2 separate regions of the Homo sapiens genome follow, and region 2 is linked to region 1. The links come from fine-mapping of genetic effects on gene expression. Tissue or cell type: tibial artery. Region 1 holds a variant in brackets; the other region holds the start of a gene. All regions are shown on one strand. Distances are from middle to middle.

Region 1 (5,376 bases):
TTGTAAACAGTCCAAATATCCAAATGCAACGATCTGTTTAGGAGCAAAAGGAAGGCAGTTTTTGTGTGACTCAGTTTCCAAGCTTAATTTTTCCCTTTGACATAGTGAGTTTGGGGTCCCAAGGCTTTATTTTCTTTTCACAGTTATATGCCCTATCATGATGATTTATTATGAAGCCATATTTTAGTCCAATTAATCTGGAGGCAATGTTCAGAGAAAATTAGAAATAGGAGAGGTTGGAGCCAGGTAGAAGAGATAACAGGTTATTGCATTAGTTTCAATGTAAGTTGTTAAGGGCCTGAACTAGACAGTGGAAGTAAAAAGAAAAGAATAACAGTGATGTGAGCATAGATTCTTCAGGACTTCCCCACAGATTAAATATGGGGTGCAAGAAAGAGAGAAGGGTCAGAGATGATCCCAAGGTGGTTCTAATATGGGAGAGAAAGGTAAATTTACTTTAGATCTGTTGAGATTTTGGTGACACATATATTCAAGGGAAAGGGAAAATATGACATCATTACTAGAAAGGGAGCATTGGTAAGCAGGGGAGAGGCTGAGTTTTGTAGACAAGGGGATTTGGAGTCATAGTTTCTAGGTAACACGTTGCAAAAGCTGTCCACAGTACAAGATAATGGAAGTCATAGGCATAGACAAGTTTCAGAGAGAAAGAAAAGCAGACCAGGTTAACTTGAACTTGGGAGAATGAAACTTGGCAGGAGGAGAAAAACAGTGAAGGAGCTTGAGAAGTTACCACCACAAAGGGAGGAAGGGTTGACAGCTAACATTTATAAAACCCTTACTAAGAGACAAGCACGATTCTAAGAGTTTTAGATTTTTTTAAATATTTAATCCTCCCAATAACTCCACAGGGTGAATATGATTATGCCTGTTTTACAGATTAAGAAACTGAGGCCAGAGAGGTAAAATAATGTGCTTGAGGTCACAAAAGTGATATTAAGTAAACCCAAAATTAAAACCTTGGCAACATGAGCATGCATAATTCTCATTCTTAAGTATGTACCCAAAGAAACACACGGACAATAACATTCACAATAGCACCATTCGTAATAGCTTAAGATTGTAAACTGTCCAAATGTCCATCAACACTAGAATGGATAAACAGATTGTAGAACATTCATATTCAATGGAATACTATGCAGCATTGGGAATGAACAAATCATTACGATAAGCATGCCACCAGCATAAAGGTGAGTGAAAGAAGCCAGTCATCCAAGAAATGTATGCTATGATTTTATTTATATAAAGTTCAAAAAGAGGTAACACATGGCTGTGGTGTGAAAAAGTCACCTGACCTTTGTGAGGTGGTAGAGACTGGGAAAGGGCCTGAGAGGGGGTTCTTGGGTGCCAGTGATGCCCTGTTCCTGAGCTGGGTGGTGGTTACACAGGTGTGTTCACTTATGAAAATTCATCAAGCTGCTCACTTATGATTCATGTACTTTTCTGTGTGTAGGTAACAAACAAAAAGTACTAAAAAACAAGAAAGCAAAATAGAACCAGGGCATCTGATTTGAGGACCTACCCCCTTAACCACAGAGTGATCCAGAGAACAAGGGTCTTTTCTCCTCTTCCACAAAGAAAAATGTGGAAGGGGACCTTATAAAATTATAAATTTAAAAGAAATTGAAGAGATAGATCAACCAAATGGAATGTATGGGTCTTATTAGCATCCAAATGAAAACAAACCGTAGCTGGGTATTATGGATCATGCCTGTAATCCTAGCACTTTGGAAGGCTGGGGCAAGTGGATCACTTGAGCCCAGGAGTTTGAGACTGGCCTGGGCAACATGGTGAGACCTCATCTCTACAAAAATACAAAAAAGTAGCTGGACATGGTGGCATGCACCTGTAGTCCCAGCTACTTGGGAGGCTGAGGTGGGAAGATCACCTGAGCCCAGGAGGTAGAGGCTGCAATGGGTCATGATCGCACCACTGCACTCCAGCCTGGGTAACAGAGCAAGATCCTGTCTCAAAAAGAAACGAAACAAAACAAAACAAAAATTAAACTGTAAAAGACAATAACAAAACAATTGGGGAATGAATATTAATTATATTATGATTATGTTTTATAAAAAGTCCTTCTATTTCAGAGATACATATTGACATACTGATGGATGAAAGAATGTCTGGCATTTGCTCCACAAGAATGAGGATACGAGTGTTGAGATGAAAGATTGGCCATGGATTGATCATTGCTGAAGGTGGATGATATCTACCTGGACTTCACTGTACTTTGTCTATTTGTTTGAGTATTTTGTGAAATAAGAAGTTTTTGCAAAAGAGAAGAAGAAAACTAACGTTCAGTGTGTTCGCAAAGGAACTGATTCCCTTGGCTCCATATTTTTAAATTTGGATCTCCTTTGAGAGAGAAAGAGAGCAAGCACATGGGTCACAGGACTAAAGGAGAAAGGGGACGTGTGGGTGGAGCATGAGCTTGCGATGCCTGCTCCTGTGGTTTTCTCTCTTCCTCTACTCCTCCACTGGAACAGTTCTGGCAAAGGCCACTGTGACCCCCACTCACTGCTGCATCCAGCAGTTGGCTTTCAGTTCTTCTTTACTTGACATCTTGGTAGCTTGGGACTCTGGTGGCCAGGCCCCCTGCTTGGGAAGCACCTCTGGTTTTCCTTTGTCCATTTCACAGCCTGCCCCATGGACTCTTCTTCCTGTGCCTGATTCTTCAGTCCTGGGCCTGTCCTCAGCCTGCTGCTCTTCTTCCCCATACCCTCTTCCCTGGTGGTTCTGTCCTCTCCCAGCGCTTGAGTTGCTGCCAGGGCTGTCTTTCTAAACAGCAGTTCTCACCAACTGATTCCCTTGTGAAGACCCAGGAATAGCTTCCCATTGCCCAAATGATAACATTCAAACTCTTCCTGGAGGTACAGGAGGCCCTTCAGCATCTTTTTTCGCCTCCACTTCCTTTCTACCTTCCCTCTCTAGCCTTCCCTCCTTCTCCTCCCCTTCACACCCTCCGAGTCAGCCAGTGACATTATCAACACTTCTGGAATGCACCAGGCCGTTCCTTGCTCCCATACCTTTGACTCGATCTGGACTACTCACCCACACACTTCCCTACCTGGAAAACTCTACTCACCCTTTGAGACTCTGCTGCAAGCTCACTCCATCCATAAAGGCTTTCCTCATCTTCCT[G/A]TGGAGTTCATTCATCCATTCAATCATCCATTCCTAATAGATGTAGATGCAAAGACCTATGATAAGGCTGAGTGCTGGGGGCCAGAACCCACATCATTCACACTTTACCTCACAGTTCCTATCTCAGGTATTGCCTTACTTACATGATAGCTGCTCCCAAGCCCTACCCCTTGAGGCCAAGGAGGGTGACTTATTCCTCTTTGTACCCAAGTGATAGTAGGCACTAAAACACGCTTGTTCAATTGAATTGAAAGAGAAGAATTACCGAGAAAAGGCCTCTGGGTTTGGCCATTCAAACACTTTTGATAAACTTTGGGTGTCTCTGTACTAAAGTTTAGGGTTGGGGGTGAAGGGAATGAGGCTTTTTCTCCTGAGGGTTAAGGAGAAGCCAGGAATTGGTACCGCTGTAGGCCACTTGCTTGAGAAATGTTATCAGTGATATGAGGCAGGAAACAGGATGACAGCAAGATTGAGTGATGGCGGAGTTCAGCATATTTTAAAAGACAGATAGGGAAGAGCTAGTGGAAGTAGACTTGAGACGCTGGTGAGAGGCAATGTTCCAGAAGAAAATGACAAAGCAAGCTAGGTTCTTTTCTTTGTTGGGGAGGGGTTGGAGACAGGTGAACCTCATACAGGCCTGGGGGCAGCTCTTCCTCTAAGATGGAAGGGAAGGCTAGAAAGTGGAGGAGTCATAGCAGCCACTTCGGGTGCCTGCCTTATGCCAGACTCTTTCATTTCCATTACACTTAATCCTCAGTCTTCATTTTCAGATAAGGAGAATGGCTCAGTGTTTCAGTGGTTTTCCACCTGGTGACACATTAGAATCCCCTGAGGAATTTGTTAAAACAGTGCATCTGGGTCTCACTCCCAGCTTTCCTGATTTAATTTGATCTGGGAAAGAACACTGGCATCAGAATTGTTTAAGATCTTCAGGTGACTCTTTTTTTTTTTTTCAGATGGAGTTTCGCTCTTGCCCCCCAGGCTGGATGCAGTGTCATGATCTCTGCTCACTGCAACCTCCACCGCCCGGGTTCAAGCCATTCTTCTGCCTCAGCCTCCGGAGTAGCTGGGATTACAGGAGCACGCCATCACGCCCTGATAATTTTTGTGTATTTTTAGTAGAGACTGGGTTTCCCCATGTTGGTCAGGCTGGTCTTGAACTCTTGACCTTAGGTGATCCACCTACCTCGGCCTCCCAAAGTGCTGGGATTACAGGCGTGAGCCACCATGCCCGGCCCAGGTGACTCTTATGTACAGAGTGGAGAACCAATGTAAGAAATCTGTCAGAGGTGACCCGCTTGCTGGGATGGAATTTAATTCAGGTCCGCCAATCCCAAAGCCCTTTCTCTTTCTCCTAGCACTGTGATTCTGAGTGTGGGTCCCACAGCAGCAGCATCGGAAACACCTGGGAGCTTTTCTAACAAAAAGAGTAGTTCTAATCTACTAAGTAAAAAACGCTGGGGTGGGGCCAGCAATGCGGTTTAATAAGCCCTCCAGGTGGTTCAAGTTTGAGACCCACCGCTCTGAAATCTTGCTACTCAGTGTGATCCACAGATGTGTAGGATCGATATCATGATATTAGAAATGCAGAACCTCAGGTCCCCCAAGACCTGCTGAATCAGAATTTGTGTTTGGCAAGATCCCGAGATGCTTCGCATGGTTAGAGTTTGAGAAGTAGTGCGTGAGGCCACTAGTTTCCAAACCTGGCCAATGATCAGAATTAACACACTTTTTAAAAGAAAACTACAGATTCCCTGTAATCCCAGCACTTTGGGAGGCCGAGGAGGGTGGATCACCTGAGGTCAGGAGTTCGAGACCAGCCTGGCCAACATTGTGACATTCTGTCTCTACTAAAAATACAAAAAAATTACCAGGCATGGTCGTGGGCACCTGTAATCCTAGCTACTTGGGAGGCTGAGGCAGGAGAATCGCTTGAACCTAGGAGGCGGAAGTTGCAGTGAGCCAAGATCGTACCACTGCACTCCAGCCTGGGCAACAGAGCAAGACTGTCTCAAAAACTACAGATTCCCCAGATATTCCACACAAGTTTCTAGCTAATCAGGTCTGAGCTCACACCTAGGTCCCTTTTTTAAAGCTCCCCATAAATCTGATGATAGATTAAGTTTAGCATTGCTCCACAATGCTGCTCTCTGTAGAAGTGGGAATTTTCTGAGTATATTCTTTGTCCCAGGCCCCTCAAAAAGTGCTTTCCTC
Region 2 (5,376 bases), 35 kb after region 1:
ACTCTAGATCTCCTCCTCCTCCTTCTTCTTCTCCTCTTCCTCCTCCTCCTTCTCCCCCTCCTCCTTCTCCCTCCTCTTCCTCCTCCTCTCCTCCTCCTCCCCCTCCTCCTTCTCCTCCTCCCTCTCCTCCTCCTCCTTCTCCTTCCTCCTCCTCCTCCTCCTTCCGCCTCCTCGTCTCCTCCTCCTCTCCTCCTCCTTCTTCCTCTTCTTCTTTTCTTCCTCTTCCTCTCCTCCTCCTTCCTCTTTCCCTTCCCCTCCTCCCTCCTCTTCCTCCTTCCTCTTTCTTTTCCTCCCCCTCCCCCTTCTTCCTCTCCTTCTCCTTCTCCTTCTCCTCCTCCTCCTTCTTCTTCTTCTTTAAAAAAGAGATAGGGTCTTGATCTGTTGCCCAGGCTGAAGTGCAGTGGCACAAAGATAGCTCACCCTAACCTTGAATTCCTGGGCTAAAGTAATCCTCCCACCTCAGCCTCCTCAGTAGCTGGGACTACAGGCATGAGCCACCATGCCCAGCCCAAACCCCAGCTCTTCTGCTGAAAGCAAACTTGCCCCCCTAGGGTGCTAGAAGAGCTCAGGCAGGGTTGGCTGCCACCTTCTGAGGGACTGTATGTCTTACTTCTGTCTGTCTTCTCCACAGCCCTGTTGGTTACCTTTTCCTAGCTACTCCCATGGTTTTGGGAAGAACATTTGTCAGAATGGTGAAGGGAGGGCCCCTGGGGCTCATCCCAGTGGTCAGCATAGGCATCAAAGCAGATTACGGCAAGCCGTGGAATATGTACTAGTGGAGGAAACAAATGGTGCTGGGCAAATTAAGAAAGAAGGTATAGGCCGGGCGCCGTGGCTTATGCCTGTAATACCAGCACTTTGGGAAGTTGAGGCGGGTGGATCACTTGAGGCCAGGAGCTTGAGGCCAGCCTGGCCAACACAGTGAAACCTTACCTCTACTAAAAATGCAAAAAAAGAAAAAAAGAAAAAAAAAATTAGCCAGGCTTTGTGGCACACACCTGTAGTCCCAGCTACTTGGGAGGCTGAGGCATGAGAGTCACTTGAACCCGGGAGGCAGAGGCTAGAGTGAGCCAAGATCACCCCACTGTACTCCAGTCTGGGCGACAGAGCAAGACTCTGTCTCGAAAAAGAAAAGAAAAAACAAAAAGTCTCCAAAATAAATAAATAAATAAATAAATAAATAAATAAATAAATAAATAAGAAAGAAAGAAAGAAAAGGAAATAAAAAAGAAAGAGAGAAGGTATAAATTTCCAGGTGGGAAGTAACCAGGACAGGAAATCTTCATGGAGGAGGTGGCACTCGGTGTAAGGATTTAGAAGAGATAAGACGGAGGGAAGGCAGGAATGATGGTCTAATTGGGGAGCAGAGAGGGTGTACTTGGAGCATGTGCTTCAATAAGAAAAGTGTCTCAGTTTTTAAGCTAATGTTGACCTGGTAAAAAGATGTTTGAGGGAGTAGGGTAAAAGCAAGACTATAGTGTTATGGAGAAGGTGGCTGAAATCCTCAATAGTGTCACTGAGTGGTCCTAAGCAGGCTCTGGATCCAGGCTGCCAGGGTTCAAATCCTGGCTATGCTATGCAGCTGCTGCATGTTCTTCAGCAGGTTACAAAACCCCTCTGTCCCTTGAGTCCTCAGCTATGATGTGGAGACAATAATGTACTGGTGTCCAAAAGTGGCTATGAGGATAAGTTTAGAAGTTTAGAAGTATAAAGGGCTTAGATGAGTGCTCGGCACATAGTAATGCTCACTGTATGTTTAGCAATAATGGTGATGGTGATGGATAAGATAAAGATGGACGCCCCTCCCAACCAAACACCCGGGTGACCTCTGGTTCCGACCCCCTCCAGGCCCTCCTGCCCTGATGTTTGACCTCAGCTATGCCTCTGATTCCAGGTAGGGGAAGATGCTTATGCCCTTCCAGGTCTCAGGTTGCTTATTCTGTGACCATCTGACCCCTAGCAATGCTGTCTCAGCCCCTCCAGGCCAGGTCTGGGTGCCGTGGGCCCTGCTGATGAGGTGGTGTGTCATGCCTGGTCAGCAGGGCAGACCGAGGGGCAGAGCTGCTTTCCCCAGCAGGGGAATAGAGTTGCGCCTTGCCTCAACTCTGCCTCTCACTGGCCTCAGTTTTCTTCTTAGTGGACTCCTAGGACATCTACCCAGATGCCCGGACAGAGGCACAGGCTTGGCTCAGGTCTTCCAGCCAATGAATAGCCAAGGCCGGATTCACACTAGGACAGTCTGGCTTTTAACTGCTGCACTAAGAGTCACTGCAGTAGATCCAGACATCAAGGAAGGTTCCCAGAGTCCTGGTGCCTCTGTGCCCTTAGGCGGGTGAATACTGATGGGTGGAGACAGAATTGTTACAAATATATAATAAATAAGTTATAGTAAAGCAGAATTCAATCCGAAACTCAGAAGAAAAGCAGTCCCCTCCATTCTATTGCAAACCACCTCTAAACTTCGTGGCTTAAAACCACAAAACTCACATTTGCTCATGATTCTGCAACGTGGGCAGAGCTCGGCAGCGGCAGTTCATCTCTGTTCCACATGGCATCAGCTGAGGCTGCTCCACCGAGGCTGCAGGATCCAGTTCCAGAATGGCACACTCACGTCACTGGAAGTTGATGCTGGCTGGCAGCCAGGGCCTCCTCTTGGCCTCCTTACACAGTTAAGTTAAACTTCTGCAGCACAATAGTTGGGTTCCAAGTGGGAGCATCCCAGGAGGAAGCATCCCAGGCCAGGGGTAGGCACTTTTCAAGCCTCTGCTGGCATCTTCTTGCTAGAGCCCTATTGGCCAAAGCTTGTCAGCTGACCAAGCCCAGAGTCAGTGTGGGAGGAGACTACACACAGTGGTGAATACTGGGAGCTGTGGTTTACCGAAGTGTCTGTCTGTCTGAACTTCTTTTTCCTAAGGCTCGCTTTGGTGCTCCTCACATTCTCCCATCAGCCTCCTCTGAAACCTGGTTCCATCCAGTATCCTCTCTCTCACCTCGTCCATTGCTCCTTCTTCAACGAATCCCTCCTTTCAGCCAACAGACCCACTCAAGCCACAGCTATCCCCGAACAGCTCCGTTCAGCCCTGCGTCTCCCTCAGGGTGCCGTCCTGTCTCCCTCCATTCCTTTGCTTCCAAAACCCTTCAAATAGCTGCTGAATGCTGGAAGCAGAAAAAGTTCCCTAAAGCCAATTTGCTACATTTATGAAATATTCTAGGCTGGGCACTGTGTCTCACGCCTGTAATCCCAACACTTTGGGAGGCCAAGGCGGGCGGATCACAAGGTCAAGAGATCAAGACCACCCTGACCAACATGGTGAAACCCCGCCTCTCCTAAAAATACAAAAATTATCTGGGTGTGGTGGCACGCACCTGTAGTCCCAGCTTCTTGGGAGGCTGAGGCAGGAGAATCGCTTGAATCCAGGAGGCAGAGGTTGTAGTGAGCCAAGATCGTGCCACTGCACTCCAGCCCGGCAACAGAGCCAGACTCTGCCTCAAAAAAAAAAAAAAAAAAAAAGTGAAATATTCTGATTTGTCCATTCTAAAGAATTTTTTCTTTAATGTTTTCAATGAATACGAATATATACTGTTAATGAATGCATTAGTAAATATATTCAAGAATATACTCTTATGAATATAAATAAAAATCTATTGATAAGAAGTCTAAACTACTCGATGACTCTTAGGTTCCAGCAAGCCCATAGTCTGTGAATAGATTCACAAGTGGAATATATTCATATTCACTGAGAAAAACTTTCTTCAAAATTTTTGACAAATTTGCCAAAATTGGCACACATCTCTTAATTAAAAAATTTCATCCCTCCTTTCTTCCATCCATTCATCCATCCAACGGATATTTATTTGAATGCCATGACATGCTCAGCACTGGGGCATAGTGTGGTTGAACACAGACCCAGCCCCGGCCCTCATAGAGTTTACAGTCTAGTAGGGGAGACAGTTACTCATTAAGTGATCATTTCAAACAAACCCTGAAACTGGCCGGGTGCCATGACTCATGCCTGTAATCCCAGCACTTTTGGAGGCCAAGATGAGAGGATCACTTGAGGTCAGGAGTTCGAGACCAGCCTGGCCAACACGGTGAAACCCCGTCTCTACTAAAAATACAAAAATCAGCTGGGTGTGGTGGCGGGTGCCTGTAATCCCAGCTACTCCGGAGGCTGAGGCAGGAAAACTGCTTGAACCCAGGAGGTGGAAGTTGCAGCGAGCTGAGATCGCGCCACTGCACTCCAGCCTGGGTGACAGAGTGAGACTCTGTCTCAATTAAAAAAAAAAAAAGAACACTGAAATTGCAATCTTGACCAGTGCTACCATACCTTTTCCAGCTCATGACACGCCCTTTGGCACGCACTGCTTTGGAATTTTGATCATACTGCTCCCTTTGCTGGCAATGCTCTTTCCCGCTTTCCCTGCTTGGCATATGCAGCTTAATTTTAAGACCCCAGTCAACAGCGCTCACTGTGGCTCTGGCTCCTATCCCCAGGAAAGATGAACTGCTCCATTATTTATGTTCTAGCAGCACTTGGCATAAACTTCTAGCAGTGAACATATCAAACCATAATATATTATATCTGTGTCTCTTCTATTAGATCGTAAGTGCAATAGGGTCAAGAATTCTGTCTTCAGAGGCTTGGGTGGAGTGAGTGTGCATGTTTAAAAAGAGAGAAGTTTACAAAAATGTTTAAAAAGAAAGAAGTCGGGGGGTGGGGGGCGGGTGGGCAGGCGCAGTGGCTCACGCCTGTAATCCCAGCACTTTGGGAGGCAGAGGGGGCCAGATAGCTTGAGCTGAGTTTAAGACCAGCCTGGGCAACATGGTGAAATCCCATCTCTACAAAAACATACAAAAAAAAAAAAAAAAAATTAGCTGGCTGTGATGGCAAGCACCTGTAGTCCCAGCTACTCAGGAAGCAAAGGTGGGAGGATTGCTTGAGCCTGGGAGGTCGAGGCTGCAGTGAGCTGTGATCGCCCTTTGCACTCCAGCCTGGGAGACAGAGTGAGACCCTGCCTCAGAAAAAAAGGTATCCTTACCTGACATGGAAAAATTCCTCTGGGCACCCATTAGGGGACAGACACCTCCATTTACACTCATCCTTTTAAAGCCTCTTATAATTTGACCCACAATATAGACATCAAAAATAAGCTTGAGGGAGGCCCAGCAGCCATGGTGGCAGACAGGGCTGGCAGGTAAGGCTCTGGTGGCCACTGACTTGAGGGAGAGCAGCCTGCTGACCTCAGCCAGGGCTGCAGCAGTGGGGCCAGTGCCAGACAAGGTGCTCCAAGGGGCTAGGACCAAGTGCAGTCATCTTTGCCTCTCTGGCATCTAGCAGCATTGACTAGATGCTCACACACTCGAGAAATACGTGT

The links. PIP is the estimated chance that this variant, and not a neighbour inherited with it, causes the effect.
Region 2: it holds the start of CARMAL, and the variant in region 1 is fine-mapped to the expression of CARMAL in tibial artery (GTEx, PIP 0.92).

What each region holds. Positions count from the first base shown.
Region 1 is chr15:89,073,115-89,078,490 of GRCh38, reverse strand. It overlaps CARMAL (coronary artery disease region linked MFGE8 regulatory lncRNA), which reads right to left. Exons shown (of 4, transcript NR_183882.1): 3 at 3,107-3,195. It also overlaps a transcript of ABHD2 not described here. Among named protein-coding and RNA genes, the nearest start is that of ABHD2, 13 kb to the left of the region's middle. The variant G/A (reference allele first, on the strand shown) is at 3,163.
Region 2 is chr15:89,038,412-89,043,787 of GRCh38, reverse strand. CARMAL (coronary artery disease region linked MFGE8 regulatory lncRNA) reads right to left here and starts at 2,790. Exons shown (of 4, transcript NR_183882.1): 1 at 2,488-2,790. It also overlaps a transcript of ABHD2 not described here.